Homo sapiens: one gene and its partners. The protein of the gene in region 3 interacts with the protein of the main gene of each other region in a pairwise test. Each region holds a gene or a part of one and is shown on either strand. Other genes may lie near its edges.

The links.
Region 1: the proteins of NUP93 (region 3) and GRSF1 interact in a two-hybrid assay, tested with the Homo sapiens proteins (one study listed by BioGRID).
Region 2: the proteins of NUP93 (region 3) and OPCML interact in binary tests that used the Homo sapiens proteins (3 or more experiments, as listed by UniProt).
Region 4: the proteins of NUP93 (region 3) and PLA2G6 interact in binary tests that used the Homo sapiens proteins (3 or more experiments, as listed by UniProt).

What each region holds. Positions count from the first base shown.
Region 1 is NC_000004.12:70,833,361-70,836,947, forward strand, and holds part of GRSF1 (G-rich sequence factor 1), read right to left. Parts: intron 2,955-3,587; coding exon 2,798-2,954; intron 1-2,797. UniProt on the Homo sapiens protein: Regulator of post-transcriptional mitochondrial gene expression, required for assembly of the mitochondrial ribosome and for recruitment of mRNA and lncRNA. Binds RNAs containing the 14 base G-rich element.
Region 2 is NC_000011.10:133,529,657-133,533,970, forward strand, and holds the start of OPCML (opioid-binding protein/cell adhesion molecule isoform b precursor), read right to left. Parts: upstream 2,846-4,314; 5' UTR 2,669-2,845; coding exon 2,608-2,668; intron 1-2,607. UniProt on the Homo sapiens protein: Binds opioids in the presence of acidic lipids; probably involved in cell contact.
Region 3 is NC_000016.10:56,736,629-56,740,128, reverse strand, and holds part of NUP93 (nuclear pore complex protein Nup93), read right to left. Parts: intron 1-3,500. UniProt on the Homo sapiens protein: Plays a role in the nuclear pore complex (NPC) assembly and/or maintenance. May anchor nucleoporins, but not NUP153 and TPR, to the NPC. During renal development, regulates podocyte migration and proliferation through SMAD4 signaling.
Region 4 is NC_000022.11:38,126,331-38,129,917, forward strand, and holds part of PLA2G6 (85/88 kDa calcium-independent phospholipase A2), read right to left. Parts: intron 3,233-3,587; coding exon 3,124-3,232; intron 2,101-3,123; coding exon 1,939-2,100; intron 120-1,938; coding exon 41-119; intron 1-40. UniProt on the Homo sapiens protein: Calcium-independent phospholipase involved in phospholipid remodeling with implications in cellular membrane homeostasis, mitochondrial integrity and signal transduction.

The DNA of each region.
Region 1 (3,587 bases), on a different chromosome or scaffold from region 3:
ACAAAGCAGGAAACAAGTGTCATATTCCTTACACAAATCCCCATCACTGAAGTCATCCAAACACCAATAAGGATTTAGTCTCTAAAACCTTCCAAGTAGAAAAGATAAGCAAACCTTAGCACAGAAGCTTATGATCTCCTTCCTGATCATTAAATAGCAAATCAGGATAGGCCCAACACAAAATTCATTATTTCTATTGCAATGTTTCTACAATCACTTAAGGAAATACAATATAGTTAAATTTATACATAAGTGTCTTCCTTTAAAATCATCTCCATAGGTCTCTAAAATATTTCCTGTATGAGTAATTTTATTACCATAGTTTAACTTTTTGTTTTTGTAGAGAGGCGGTCTCATTTTGTTGCACAGGCTGGTCTTGAACTCTTGGGCTTAAGTAATCCTCCCACCTTAGTCTCCCAAAGTGCTGGGATTACAGGCATCAGCCACCACACCCAGCCTTTTTCCCCTTTTCATACTGCATACTTTTTATAATGGGAGTAGTCCAAGATGTAAGTGGCCAAGTGGCTTTAAAAAAAAGTTTGACCAGGCTCACTCTGGGCATACTGCCTAGGATTTACTCCTGCTCCACAAGGAGCAGCTAAAAAAATTAATGAAATAGCCAGGCATGGTGGTTCATGCCTGTAATCCCAGCCCTTTGGGAGGCCAAGGTGGTGGATCACCTGAGGTCAGGAGTTTGAGACCAACCTGGCCAACACGGCAAAACCCTGTCTCTACTAAAAATACAAAAATTAGCCGGGCATGGTGATAGGTGCCTGCTGTCCCACCAACTCAGGAGGCTGAGGCAGGAGAATCCCTTGAACCCGGGAGGTGGAGGTTGCAATGAGCCGAGATTGCGCTACTGCACTCCAGCCTGGGTGACAGAGCAAGACTCCATCTCAAAAAAATTAATAAAAATAAATCATAGTCAGATACAGAAACTAAAAAAAAAAATCCCACAGATATGTAAACCCTCCAAACATGTTATTAAGGGAACTTTATTCCTTGATACTAAGTGACCTTCTATTGTAAATGTCTGTATTACATAAAGAGTCACCCTTAATTCCATATTTCCACTGACAGGCTTGACTTTTTGATATGTATATATTAATACCACAGAGAAAAATAATTTCAAACCATGTAATTTTGTTTTTCAACTTTTATTTAGTACATGTATAGGACTGCTACATAGGTAAACCATGTGTTATGGGAGTTCGGTATACAGATAATTTAGTTACCCAGGTAGCAAGCACAGTACCCAATAGGTTTTATTTTTCTTTTTGAGACAGAGTCTCTCTCTGTCACCACGGCTGGAGTACAGTGGTGTGAACTCAGCTCACTGCAACCTCCGCCTCCCAGATTCAAGCGATTCTCCTGCCTCAGCCTCCCAGGTAGCTGGGACTACGGGAGCGTGCCACCACGCCCGGCTAATTTTTTTTGTATTTTTAGGAGAGATGGGGTTTCAACATGTTAGCCAGGATGGTCTCGATCTCCTGACCTCGTGATCCGCCCGCCTCGGCCTCCCAAAGTGCTGGGATTACAGGCGTGAGCCACCGCACTTGGACCCGATAGGTATTTTTTAATCTTCTCCCCAACCCTCAAGTTGGCCCTGGTGTCTTCTTGTTCCCCTCTTTGTGTCCATGTGTTCTCATTGTTTAGCTCCCACTTGTAAGTGAAAACATACAGTATTAAGTTTAATGTTCCATGTTAGTTTGCTTAGGATAATGGTCTCCAGCACCACCCACATTGCTGCAAAGCACATAATCTCACTCTTTGTTATGGCTACGTAGTATTCCATCATACCAGCCGGGCACGGTGGCTCACGCCTGTAATCCCAGCACTGTGGGAAGCCGAGGCAGGCAGATCACAAGGTCAGGAGATTGAGATCATCCTGGCTAACACGGTGAAACCCCAGCTCTACTAAAAATACAAAAAATTAACTGGGTGTGGTGGCAGTCGCTACTAGGGAGGCTGAGGCAGGAGAATGGTGTGAACCCGGGAGGCGGAGCTTGCAGTGAGCTGAGATCATGCCACTGCACTCCAGCCTGGCGACAGAGCGAGACTCCGTCTCAAAAAAAAAAAAACCTACATAGTATGATGGATTTTTTTTTTTTTTTGAGACAGAGTCTCACTCTGTCGCCCAGGCTGGAATGCAGTGGCACCATCTCGGCTCACTGCAAGCTCCACCTCCCGGATTCACACCATTCTCCTGCCTCAGCCTCCCAAGTAGCTGGGACTACAAGCCTGGGTAATTTTTGTATTTTTAGTAGAGACGGGGTTTCACTATGTTAGCCAGGATGGTCTCGATCTCCTGAGCTTGTGATCCGCCCGCCTCGGCCTCCCAAAGTGCTGGGATTACAGGCGTGAGCCACTGCGCCTGGCCCATACTATGCAGTCTTAACGTTAAAATACTTTTGTTGCATTCAAAGTCTTTATACATATGTAAATTGAGACAGTCTCACAGTGTTGCCCAGTGTGGTATGGAACTACTGGCCTCAAGCCATCCTTCCACCTTGGCCTCCCAAACTGCTGATTACAGGCCTGAGCCACTGCCCCTGGCCCAAAGTCTTTCAATTCGTTACATACCGCAAACAGCACACATGGTATCATTTGGTATATGCAACCAACCAGAATGAGACAGTTCCCAACCATCAAAAAGGAAGGTGACAGCGTAGTCTGACATGGATTTGTAGCACTACCTTTTACTCAGACAAAATTACATACTTAAAACATACATACCTGCTTGTGAGAAACAATATAAGGAAAAAAAATAAATAAATAAAACATACATAAAATATACCTGAAAAAAAGTTAAGCACATCTTCCATAGTGCATGACCAGGGCAGTCCTTGAGCTCGAATGAGAAAGACATCATCCACTTCCTCTTCTAACTTGGACGGGGCCAATTCATACTCAGGGGGTGGTGGAAGGTCTTCCAGGTAAGTAGTTTTGGACTCCTTCCAAAGGAAATGAAGAATTGTAAAAAGAGTTGCATTTACAGGTAAAAAATGTAAAAAAATTCTTAGAAAATGTTTATTCTACAAACTAACATTCTAGATGTTATTTCAGAAGCAAAAAGTAAACTTCACCAATGTAACCCATCCTGTTTTGGCTTAAATTGTACATCCAAAAGCCATAAGCAGGTATATCCTAAAGGTTTGGCAGGACACAAATTTCATTCAGGGTTTGTTTTAAAATTCATCAACCCCAAATTATAGCTAACAATAGTGTAGTTAAGGCAACACAAGAAAGGTCCTGACAATTTGACAAATATTTGATTGCCCCTACACACAGTGTTTGCCGCCCTCATCTGAAATAGCTATCTAGAATACGATAAGCATACAAGATGAGATACTGAGTGCTATAATTAAGATACAAAATACTACAGGAATTCAAATCAGAGCACTAACAGATGAATCAGGATGTGACATGAGATGGGCCTTGAAGGAAGGATAGAATTTTTATGAGGATATAAAAGATAGGGTATTCCAGTTTGAAGGCGAGAGAAAGAAGCAGTACGACCAAATGCCCATTTGAATAACAGCAATTAATTCCAACTGTTTAAATTAGGAGCCAAAGAAGGTGACCTG
Region 2 (4,314 bases), on a different chromosome or scaffold from region 3:
GCATTGAGGCCTAACCAGGTCAAGGTTCCATTATTACATCAGCCTTTGGTTTTTAGACGCAGTGAAAGTAAGTGGCTAACGAGCTGGTATTAATCCCTGTGGGAGAAAAAGCATCATCATTTGAAACAAAGAAAAAAAAGTCTAAAGCTATAACAGGAAGTAAAAGAAAAGAGAAAGGAGAAGTCGCAAGTAAGCCATGGCAGCTCATCAGAACTTCCGGATCCAGCCAGGTTTCCCACAGGAACCCCTCAAGATGCGAAGCGTTCTTTCACCGACACCTTCTAAGGCTAACTTTTTCTCCTCCCCGTTCTTGTTCTTACCGGGCTCCTGACACAATTAGCATAAGAGTAGCCCTCAAAGCAGGTAACAGACTCTTCAGAAAGAGGGCATGTTGCAGTGATGTCCACACCCTGCTCTCCCCCAGAAGATGGGGGCAGGGGGGTGGGGGGGATAGCTTGTCATTGTCGTTCATCCACCATGCTCAGGACGGTCAGGCAGGGGTGCAGGTTCATCCTCCTTTCCCTCAGCCGGCTTTAGTTTCGGGTACTTCTCCTGCAAGCAAGTTCTGCCTGCTCCCCACCAGTGCAGTGCCACGGGACCCCTAGAAGGAGGTCTCACCCTGGCTCCTGGCTCCTTCAGGGCGCGCTGCAATGCAGCTTCTGCAGACTGGGGCTCACCCCCCGCCTTGCTTTCTAAAGTGTAATGTTATGATTTCTGCCATAAGGGGCGCATCCATACAGCCAGGATTCCCTTGGGATGGGGGTCCTGATCTTTGCTCCAGCACAGTGAGAGGAGGGGAAGCGGGTATGAGGAGGCCCCCCGGAGCTGCCATCCAGCTGGGGACTTGCCTACGCAGGAAAGTTTGTCTTCTCCTGCCACGGACCCAGTGCACCCACCTAGCTCCCTCTACCAGGCTCAGGCAGGTACTGAGTGTTCCGTTGGCTCTGCCTTCCCTGCTGAGCACAGCCCCCAGGCTGGACCCCCTAGGATGCTGCTGGAATCTGGAATAACAACAACAGCAACCCCCACTCTGAACTTCTTGGTCAGCCTAAAACAAACAGCTGGGAACATGGTTATGCAGAGCCCATCCCTGCTTTAAAAAGTGCCATCTTCACAAGGTGTTACAAAACATTACAGGCTGGATTACTTGTTTTAGTTGATCCTCTCTTCTTTCTCCCCAGTAAACTTCCATTTTTCTGATTTCACTTTGGCATCTTAGGACTACTCAGGGAATTATATTATTAAAAACAACACTGAAAATATTCCCACAAAACCCTACCAAGTAATACTGAATATAGAAACATAAAACTGTATGTTTTACCTATAAAAAGGCAGGTAAGGTTTTAAAATCTTAGCATTCCTGTCTGTGTATATATGTATGAAAATTTAGGTTTAAGCTAATGTTTAACACAATGCATTTATCTCAATTTGGGGGAAAAAAAGAGATCCTGACTGTGCGACGGTTTGGTATGAAAACCGACACTTTTGCTGCTGCCTAAAACCTTGGCAAGCATAACCTAGCCCCTTCGGCATTGTTTGAAAGATGCCTGCAGGCATTCAGTTGTCTGCTTGCAAAGGACTCCTGTGCAATTATCAAATCTATTAAGATGCCTTCAATTTTGCAACGCTTCTGCTAAGCTCATTTTGGTAGGATTGCAGCATCTTACCTGTGTCACTGCAGATTTGTTTTCCCCAAACAAATAACTGCTGTGAGAGGTGGGATCACATTTAAATCATTAGACAAGGTGGGGAAGGGGCTGGGGAGAATCAGGCAAATCCAAATTTCCAACCTTCCCTCAGCAGGGACATCCCAAATTCTGCCAAGGGAAATTCATATTCCTGACGTAAGGAACAGGAAGGAGATACTGAGAGGATTCCGAATTTCAAGGGCATAATCTGCCCATTTGGTGGAAGGATAAAGAAAGGACGGCAGGCAGTAGAGGGCCTGTGTTACAACAAGAAATGCAGGAGCAGATGAGTGAGCTGAGAAGGAGGGATGGGGCAGGGAAGGAGCTCCAGGGGGAGAGGGTAGGGGAGAGCAGTTCCGAAGGAAGGGAGGGAGGAGGAGAGTGGGGAGAGGTGGAGAGGGAGAGAGAGAGAGAGAGAGAGAGAGAGAAAAGAAACAGAGAGAGAGACAGGGAGGCGCAGAGATCTGGACTGATTCAGAAACAGAGAGAGACCACCACGACTGAGAGAGATAAGAGGGTGCCCCTTCCACCCTGCAGGTCCCAACATAGGCAGCAAGAAGGATTTATGGCTGGGAGTTCAAACCCCTCTTCTCCTACCCCCAGGACCACAGCTGGTTAATGCCAGTTGGTGACTTTCACTGAAACAGCAGTGCCTCACAGCATGGTGCAGATCTCGAACCCAGCTCACTGGATCCCCCGGAACAGAGAGCAAATCCCGTGCTGAAAGCATCTGCGCGCGTGTGAGCGAGTGAGTGTGTGTGTGCGTGCACACAGCAAGCCTACCTCTTTCACTCACATGCATCTCACACTCCCTGTCCTCACCCCTTCCTCCTTGCCTCTCCATCTCCCCACTGCCTCTCCTGCTCTCACGTCGTACAATCACCCCAGGGAGAGAAAACACCCTTCCCCTGTACGGTACCTGGGATGAAGAGCAGGGCAGTTGTCGCCGAGAAGACGACCCAGTAGGCAGGATGGTACATCTCGACGCTGCGGTGCTCTCAGCTGCCGGGCTTGCTACTGCTTCTGCTGCTGCTACCGCTGCTGCCTTCCTCTGTGCTGAATTCTGAGCAGGTTTAAATCCAATGTTTGCAAAGGGAGGGAGAGAGCAGAAGAGAGAGAGAGCGCGCGAGAGATGGGAGCAGGCAGGCAGCGTCTCTGATTTCTTTTCTTGCACACAACTGGTAAGAATCATCAGCACCAATCTGCACAGGGCTCAGAGCAGTCCTCCAAGGCACGCATTGGCTCCACTCTCCTGAGCGACGGAAGGAGACTTTCCTGCTTGGAAGGCTTGACTCCAAGGGGAGTCGAAGCCGGCCCCTCACTCACCCCCTCACCGGAGCACAGCCCTGCGTGTTGCTATCTGTGTGAGTATGTTGATGTGGGGCTCACGTGGACACGTGAACACACACGAGCTCCTTGGTGGGCAGTGGAGAGGGCCTGGCACTGCCAGCAGGGCTCAGGGCACACCAAGAAAGAAAGGTTGCTTGGCAGAAATGTGACTAATGCCCATGCCAGTTCCTTATCATTCTTCCTTCTTCCTAGTCTCCAGGCAGGGATGGAGCAGGAACTGCTACCCACGGGGAGAGCTCAGACATTTAAATCTGCACCCTACCCCTCCATTCGGCCATTAACAGCATTTGGAAGCAGTTGGTTTTCCCAGTAAGGAGATGGGCATGTTACGGTTTTAAACCAATGATGCAGGGAGAATTGGCCAGTTCCCCACAATCAGAGCATTCTGAAACTCTACCAAGGCAAGATGCTATAGAAGCTCAAACAATTGCTATGATTACAGCATAGGCAGGGACAGATTCAGATTAGATCTCAAGGAGGCGGAAACTTGCTGAAGTCATCGGAAATCTTCACAAGGAGAAGGCCACAGAAGGATACCTGTGGCTTCCTTCTGTTTTTTTTTTTTCTGCTTCTCCTTTTCAGGGTCCAGTCTGTCCCTTCCTCTGGAATGGCAGTTTACACCGGCAGTTTACACAGGATGGCAGTATCTCTGGGTGTAAGAAACCTCAGAACTTTCCCCTGCTCTAAAACGGCCTGCTTGCCCTCCCTAACACGTGCTTGTAAGCAGCACACCTTGCTGGCTGAGTGGTGCTGCCACTGAACTATACCCTGAACTTGGAGGGTCTGTGATCAAAATAGCACCAAGTATTAGAGAAGGGACTCAGCAGACGATTTCTGTCCCAGGTGCTCTCCGAAGACCTCAAGTGGCTTGGATTCCTTCCCAGCTCCACGTGTCCACACCTTGAGGTCTGTGAGGGACACTCCACAGGAGGTCTTTCTCCCTTCCTCCTTTGCTGCAATTCCCAAAGTTTTCCCAAGTGACCTACTATGGGCAGGTATTCACCTCTATCACTTTAGTTAATCCTCACCAGCGTCCTTCCTTGTAGGCATTATGACCCCTGAATTTTCAACTGAGGTTGACAGCGATTCAGTGACTTGCCACACAGCTAATGAGTTAAGATAAAAACCCAGGTCTGTCCTGCAAAATCCACACAGTTTTTATAAAGCAGCCAATTGCCAACAAGTTCTTTGGGCCTGACTGAGCGCCTCTCTTTCTATAAAATAAATCATGTTTACTTTTAAAGAAGTAAAACAATTGATTACTCCCCTCCTTATG
Region 3 (3,500 bases):
GTCAGCCCCCCGCCTGGCCAGCCGCCCCGTCCGGGAGGGAGGTGGGGGGGTGAGCCCTCCGCCCGGCCAGCCGCCCCGTCTGGGAGGTGAGGGGCGCCTCTGCCCCGCCGCCCCTACTGGGAAGTGAGGAGCCCCTCTGCCCGGCCAGCCGCCCCGTCCGGGAGGGAGGTGGGGGGGGTCGGCCCCCCGCCCGGCCAGCCGCCCCGTCCGGGAGGGAGGTGGGGGGGTCAGCCCCCCGCCTGGCCAGCCGCCCCGTCCGGGAGGGAGGTCGGGGGGTGAGCCCTCCGCCCGGCCAGCCGCCCCGTCTGGGAGGTGAGGGGCGCCTCTGCCCGGCCGCCCCTACTGGGAAGTGAGGAGCCCCTCTGCCCGGCCAGCCGCCCCGTCCGGGAGGGAGGTGGGGGGGTCGGCCCCCCGCCCGGCCAGCCGCCCCGTCCGGGAGGGAGGTGGGGGGGTCAGCCCTCCGCCCGGCCAGCCGCCCCGTCCGGGAGGGAGGTGGGGATGTCGGCCCCCCGCCCGGCCAGCCGCCCCATCCGGGAGGGAGGTGGGGGGGTCAGCCCCCCGCCCGGCCAGCCGCCCCGTCCGGGAGGGAGGTGGGGGGGGGTCAGCCCCCCCGCCCGGCCAGCCGCCCCGTCCGGGAGGTGAGGGGTGCCTCTGCCCGGCCGCCCCTACTGGGAAGTGAGGAGCCCCTCTGCCCGGCCAGCCGCCCCGTCCGGGAGGGAGGTTGGGGGGTCAGCCCCCCGCCCGGCCAGCCGCCCCGTCCGGGAGGGAGGTGGGGGGGGTCAGCCCCCCTGCCCGGCCAGCCGCCCCGTCCGGGAGGTGAGGGGCGCCTCTGCCCGGCCGCCCCTACTGGGAAGTGAGGAGCCCCTCTGCCCGGCCACCACCCCGTCTGGGAGGTGTGCCCAACAGCTCATTGAGAACGGGCCAGGATGACAATGGCGGCTTTGTGGAATAGAAAGGCGGGAAAGGTGGGGAAAAGATTGAGAAATCGGATGGTTGCCGTGTCTGTGTAGAAAGAAGTAGACATGGGAGACTTTTCATTTTGTTCTGCACTAAGAAAAATTCCTCTGCCTTGGGATCCTGTTGATCTGTGACCTTACCCCCAACCCTGTGCTCTCTGAAACATGTGCTGTGTTGTCCACTCAGGATTAAATGGATTAAGGGCGGTGCAAAAAAAAAAAAAAAAGAAATTTAGCATTTAATTTTAAGCAGAAACTCTGCCCTCAAACCTTATTAATCAGACTATGACAGGAGTAAAACACAAGAATGGTGTTCAACATTCTTGTGAATGATTCTTTCTTTTCTCATCCAAGATTGATGAGAAAAACCTCCACCCAAGGTATCAAAAGTTTAATACTGATTCTGTTCTCCTCTCTTTTGAATACATAAACTAGCTAGATGACAATATCATTCCACTTTTTACTATTATCTGTCAGCTGTCAATTACAACAACAACCCCAAAAAAATTAAATCTTGACAGACATCATTGTTTCAGATGCCTCTGGAAGAGAGAGGAGAGGGAAAAAAAAATTGTTGGAAAGTTCTTTACAGCCCTGTGAGACTAAGTAAAAGAGACCTTATCATTATTCAAAAGGTAGAGTTCTGGAGAAAACAAAGACCTAAAATAAATTAACCTAGACAGAAGAAAAAGACTTGGGTGATTTAGTAGCAGTACTGCCCTCAGTGACTCAATGTTTGCAATAAGGAATGGGTAGTATCAGCTTTCCTGATACATAAAATATCACTTGTATTATTTCCTCTTCAATGAGCAAAGAGAAGTAATAACCTGGCATCACAAAGAAAAATAAATTATCCACATAGTAACTTTCTGATAAACTCTTGGCTGTCCAGCAGAAGGCCCAGCTGGGAAGAAAGTGCTGTGGACTACAGCTTGGCTCCATCCCACGCCAGCCCTCTGACCCTGGGGCTGGATCGTCTCTGGATGAGGGGGTTGCTCAGGTGATCTCTAAGGGCCTGCTCACCTTAAAGAATTTACAAATGTGAGATGTTTTAATTCGGTCTTTAAACTTACTTGATGCTTCCTGGGAAACAGCCCCATTTTAGTGGTGATGGAAATTATCTCTACAGAGAACCTTAGGAATGATACTAGTTCTGTCTTACAACTAGCATAAACAGGGGCAGATCACCAAGTCGGCCCCAAAGGGCCTGTGGCTTTGGCTCTGGCTCTGGCTCTTCTCTCTAAACCAATGCTACTCAACTTTGCCCCACAGGGGACATTCAGCAATAGCTAGAGACATTTTTGGTTGTCACAACTTGGGAGGCAGAAGGTGTGCGGATTCTAACAAAAGTCTGGGTCCCTACCATTATAATTTTAAAACCATTGCATTTACAGAATTATCCCACTTGGGCTTTTTATGGCAGTATATTCATACCTTGGTATACCACACACAGCAATGGAAAAGAAACTACAGACTACACAGAACATGGATGAATTTCACAGACATCACAATGAGCTGAAGAAGCCAGATACAAAAAGAAAAAAAAAAAAGCACCGTATGACTCCATTTATATGGATCTTAAAAACAGAAAAAATGAATCTATGGGACTAAAGATCAGAATACTGGTTATCCTTGGGAGTGTAGGGGGAGTGCTGATTGGGAGAAAGCACAGCAGAGCTTTTCGGGTACTAAGGACTGAACTGTATTCTCTCAGAATTCCTGTGTTGAAGCCCTACCCCACAATGTGATGCTATTTGGAGATGGGGTCTTTGGGAAGTAATTAGACTCAGATGAGGTGACGTGGGTGGGGTCTTCAGGATGGGATAAGTGCCCTTAGACACACCAGAAAGCTTGCTTTCCTCCACCTACCTCTCCCCACACATACACATCAAAGAAAGGTCTTGACTACACACTGAGCAGCGAGGAAGAGGGCCCTCACCAGAACCCAACTATGCTGGCATCCTGATCTCGGACTTCCAGCCTCCAAAACTGTGAGGAAATAAATTTCTGTTTAAGCCAGAACAACAGATATTTTGATATTTTATTATGGTGATCTGAGCTGACCAAAGTACCAGAAATGCTTTATATTTCAATATGGACAGTGGTCACATAAGTGAATAAATGTGTAAAAATTCCCTAAGCTGTATACTTAAGGTTGACTCACAGTTTTTTAGAAGGAATAGCAAGAAACAAAGCACTGACTTAGCAAGAAACAACCTAGCATTACCAAGGTGAGAGTTGGGAGACTTTTCTACTTTTCATTTGATTCCCTTGTCAGGGCAAATTCTTTTCCATGAGTATATGTGATCTTACATAATTTTTAATAACTTGTTAATTTTAATATTGCTCTAAATTCCCTACTTCACAGTGTGTGTCTCACCACTGCCCTTGAAGACTCAATGGCAATGACTGTCAAATCCACACCTGCCCCCGTGCACTCAAACTCCAACCGTGAGTTTCCAGGCACCACTGGTGCATCTCCTCTCAAGCACATAACTGTCACACCCACCATGTCTCCAAATGCAGTTATCCACCCCCAACTCC
Region 4 (3,587 bases), on a different chromosome or scaffold from region 3:
CACACGTTCCCCGCTCTGCCCCCGATCTCGATCCACTTACGTCCGCTTCTCGTCCCTCATGGAGCCCAGGATGAACGCTGGCTTCCGGGCCCGTGAGATGTGCATGAGATCCTGTAGTTCTGTGAGGCACAGAGCAGGGCATGCTGTGGTCAGGTGGGTCCCCAAGCCCTGCTACCCCAGAGGTCCCTAGATCAAACCTGGGCTGTGCCTCGCCCACGGCCACGCCCTCATCCCCCCACTCCCCCTGTCATCTGTCCCTTCCCCACAGGAAGGACTCTGTCCCAGGAGAAAGCTGAGCCACAGGCCACAGGAGAGAAATGGGCTGGAGTGGAAAGGGGGGCCCACTGCTCTGGGAAGGGCTCCCCACCCTGCCCAGCCAGCTCCCAGGTTCCCCTCAATCTCTTCCTCTTGAAACCCCAAGGCATGAATACCCTTGCGTGTCCTCTTCAGACAAAGTGCTTCTTCTTGCATCGGAGCCGATGCTGCAATAACCACCTGGGGCCTAAGAATTCTTATTCCCTATTGACAGGTGAGGCTCTAAGAGGGTCCATAATTCACCCAAGGTCATTTAGTCAAAAGGCTGAGTCAGGACGTTCCTCGGGGTTTAAGTCCATGGATGAAAGGAGACATCCCTCGTCCTGATCCCAGGTCTGGAAATCCCAGTGGCCTCCGGGATCAGGCCCACCATCCACTCTGTCCATGTCTTCCTTTGTGTCCAAGGCCTGCCTGACGTCCACCCAACTGACTAGCTGCCCCTCCTGACAAGCAGCCCAGTCCCCAGGTGCCTGGTGCAGCAGCCCGCGTGACCCCAACTCTGACAGCCCCCCACCACTGTGCAGAGTCTAGAAGCAGCAAAGCAGAACCGAGGGCTGCGAAGCGGTGTCTCCCCCTCCCCAGGGCACACGGCTCCACAGTGAACAAGGGAAGCAGAAGAGTGGCTGAGAGAGGCCGGGGACAGGGTGCAGGGGAGGGGGCGTGTGGTGTGTGCGCAGCTAAGAAGGACGGATTAGGGAGTGAGAGCTAGAGCTAATGCCGCATGGCTAGGCTCGGTGGCCTCTCCAGGCCCAGGGCGTTACCCATCTGACGCCGCACCCCAGGCCCACCATCCGGCCTGGCTTGGGTGACTGCCTGCAAAATTGAGAGATAAAGATGGGAGGTGGAGGGGGAGTTCCTGGGAGGGGAGAGAGAGGTGGAGCCAGGACTAGAAGCCACAGTCACGGTGCCTCTCCAGAGTTCCAGGCTTGGTCGGGCTACCCTGGCTGAAGGTGCTGCCGCCTCCACAGTGAAGTCTGGCTCACCAAGGACTGGCTCCTGGCTGCCCTCTGTTCAGGGGACCCCGCTCCCAAACAATGGAGGTCCCTGAGTGGGCCAGCCCACAGAAAGTCCAGAGAAGGGTCCTGTCTAGTCTGGGGATGTCTCCCTGGGCACCAAGGAATGCACCGGGGCAGATGCTGGCTGCCTGGCCACATTCAACGTCTGAAAGTCACCACGGGGCCAGGAAGGGGGCACACAGGTCTCAGGCCCAACCGAGATTCAAACAGTGTGATAGAGGTGAAGCCAGAGGGACAGGTGAAGCCAGAGGGCCCGGGCCCCCAGTCCCCCGACAGCACTCCTCACTGCCCACCCTGAACGCCCTGGGGACAGGAGGGCAGTAACAGCAGCCACCTCATGGGTGCCACTGGAAATGCCCAGGCCTGAGACTGTGTGCAGGACACATCCTCTCAGGGGCAACGGAGCATGGGACATCAGCCAGGGACACCCTAGGCCTCTGGGATCTGTGGGTTGCTGGCTGCCTAGAGGCTGACAACTCCGGCCCCATCCTCCCCGGCTTCCTTTAGTGACTTCCGTCCTAGGGATCCTGTTGCTTTGGTGGGGCCTGCTGTGATCCAGGGGCCTGGGAACCAGCTGGAGAAGAGGGAGTCGGGAGGCGAGGCCTACCTAGGTTGTTTAGGCTGATCGGTGGGGGCTGAGCTCTTTCCAGGGAGAAGGGATGATGTGGCGCTGCAGAGCCCTGCTCCGCGGGGACCCCGTGGATGGGTGGGAAGCAGTATTCGGCCCCCACGGTTCTCAGCAGAGTCAAGATCGCCTTCCTGGTGACAACTTGTCATGGTTTGGGGAAGGGGAGATGGCACAGGATCAGAAATGATGTCAACATGCAAAGGAGAGGCCCCTCCTTTCCACACTCCGTCCCCTGTCCCAGCTCCCAGGCCCTGGGCACGTGGGCTGCTCCAGAGGCCTCAGCCCACCCTGACAGGGAGTGCTGCCCCCAGGCTGGTACATCCCAAGCAGCTTCCTAAGGCCAGGGAAGGAGGATATGGGAGGAGGAGGTCAGTGTCACCCTGCCCGATGCCTGTGGGAACCCCTTCTTTCCTTCTACTCCAGCCAAGAAAGCAGGAATCCCATGGCCACATTCAGTGATTCTCAAAAATGCTAAGTGATAGTTCAGGGTTCCAAAGGGACTAATGAGCCAGCCAGGGGGCACCTACTCCATTTGATGGATGGGATTGCTGAAAAGGAGGTCATAGATGCGGTGCATGCAGACACACACGTGTGCACTGGCACACACACACTGCTGCCATCAGGTACCTGCCCACAGTGACCCCCACAGCTGCTGAAACCCTCCAGAGCGGGCTCCAGGCCTCTGGTGAGGAGGATCTGCTCTGTCCAGCTCTGAAGCTAAGGCTCACTGTGCGAGCGTGCAGCACATGGCCATGCACTCTGCCCACACAGGCATGCCCAGAGCTCGTGCAGTGTAGTGCATGCACCCTTGGTCATTCTAGCCAGTGGTTCCATCAGTGAATTCCCCAACGGTGGGGAAAGAAGGCTGCTGCTGGCTCTCCTGTCCCCACCCCTGCTGGGAATCTTAGCTCCCTGAGGTGGGGGGCGCTGCACGGGAGAGGATGCTGGTATAGCAAGCCCCGTGGTGGGCCTGCATCTACTGCTCAGGGCCCTTGTGCTTGGGTAAGGAAGCCCCCTCTCTGAGTACGAGGTGCTCCTGGCAGCTCTGAGCAGGGCGGGTCAGCACAGGATGCTGGCACCTGATGCCTGGGACTTCCCTCCTCCTCGGTCCCTGTATCCACCCAACCCTCACCCCACTCCAGCCCCAGAGTGCAGAGCACATACGTCTGCCGATTTTGGAGGCTAGGAATGTAGGAGTCTCCCCAAAGTCATTCGGGGTGTCCACTTCTGCTCCGAACACGATGAGGGCCTTGATCATCTCCACGTTGTCTTTCTGTTGGAGATGGAGAGAGGATAAGACGTGCAACTGCCGGGGAAGTGAAGAACAAAGGGGCCCCTGGCTGCCAGCCCCAACCTGTCAACTCACCCAGCGGGCCTCTCCTCAGCACGGGGAGACACTGGAACCCTCCTCACCCCCACCCAAGTCAATCTGGTAGTCCAAAGTCTGCCATTTGATGGCTGGGGACCTGACAAACAGGCTTAAAAGCACCCACAGGGGAGGGTGTAAGAACCCAGGCAGAAACTAGAAGTGACTCGCCCCTGCTCTGCCAGCTCCGCCTCCAAAGATGCAGTGCATCTGTGACCCCGACCCAGGAGCCATGGGGACACAGTAGGTCAGCTGCTGATGG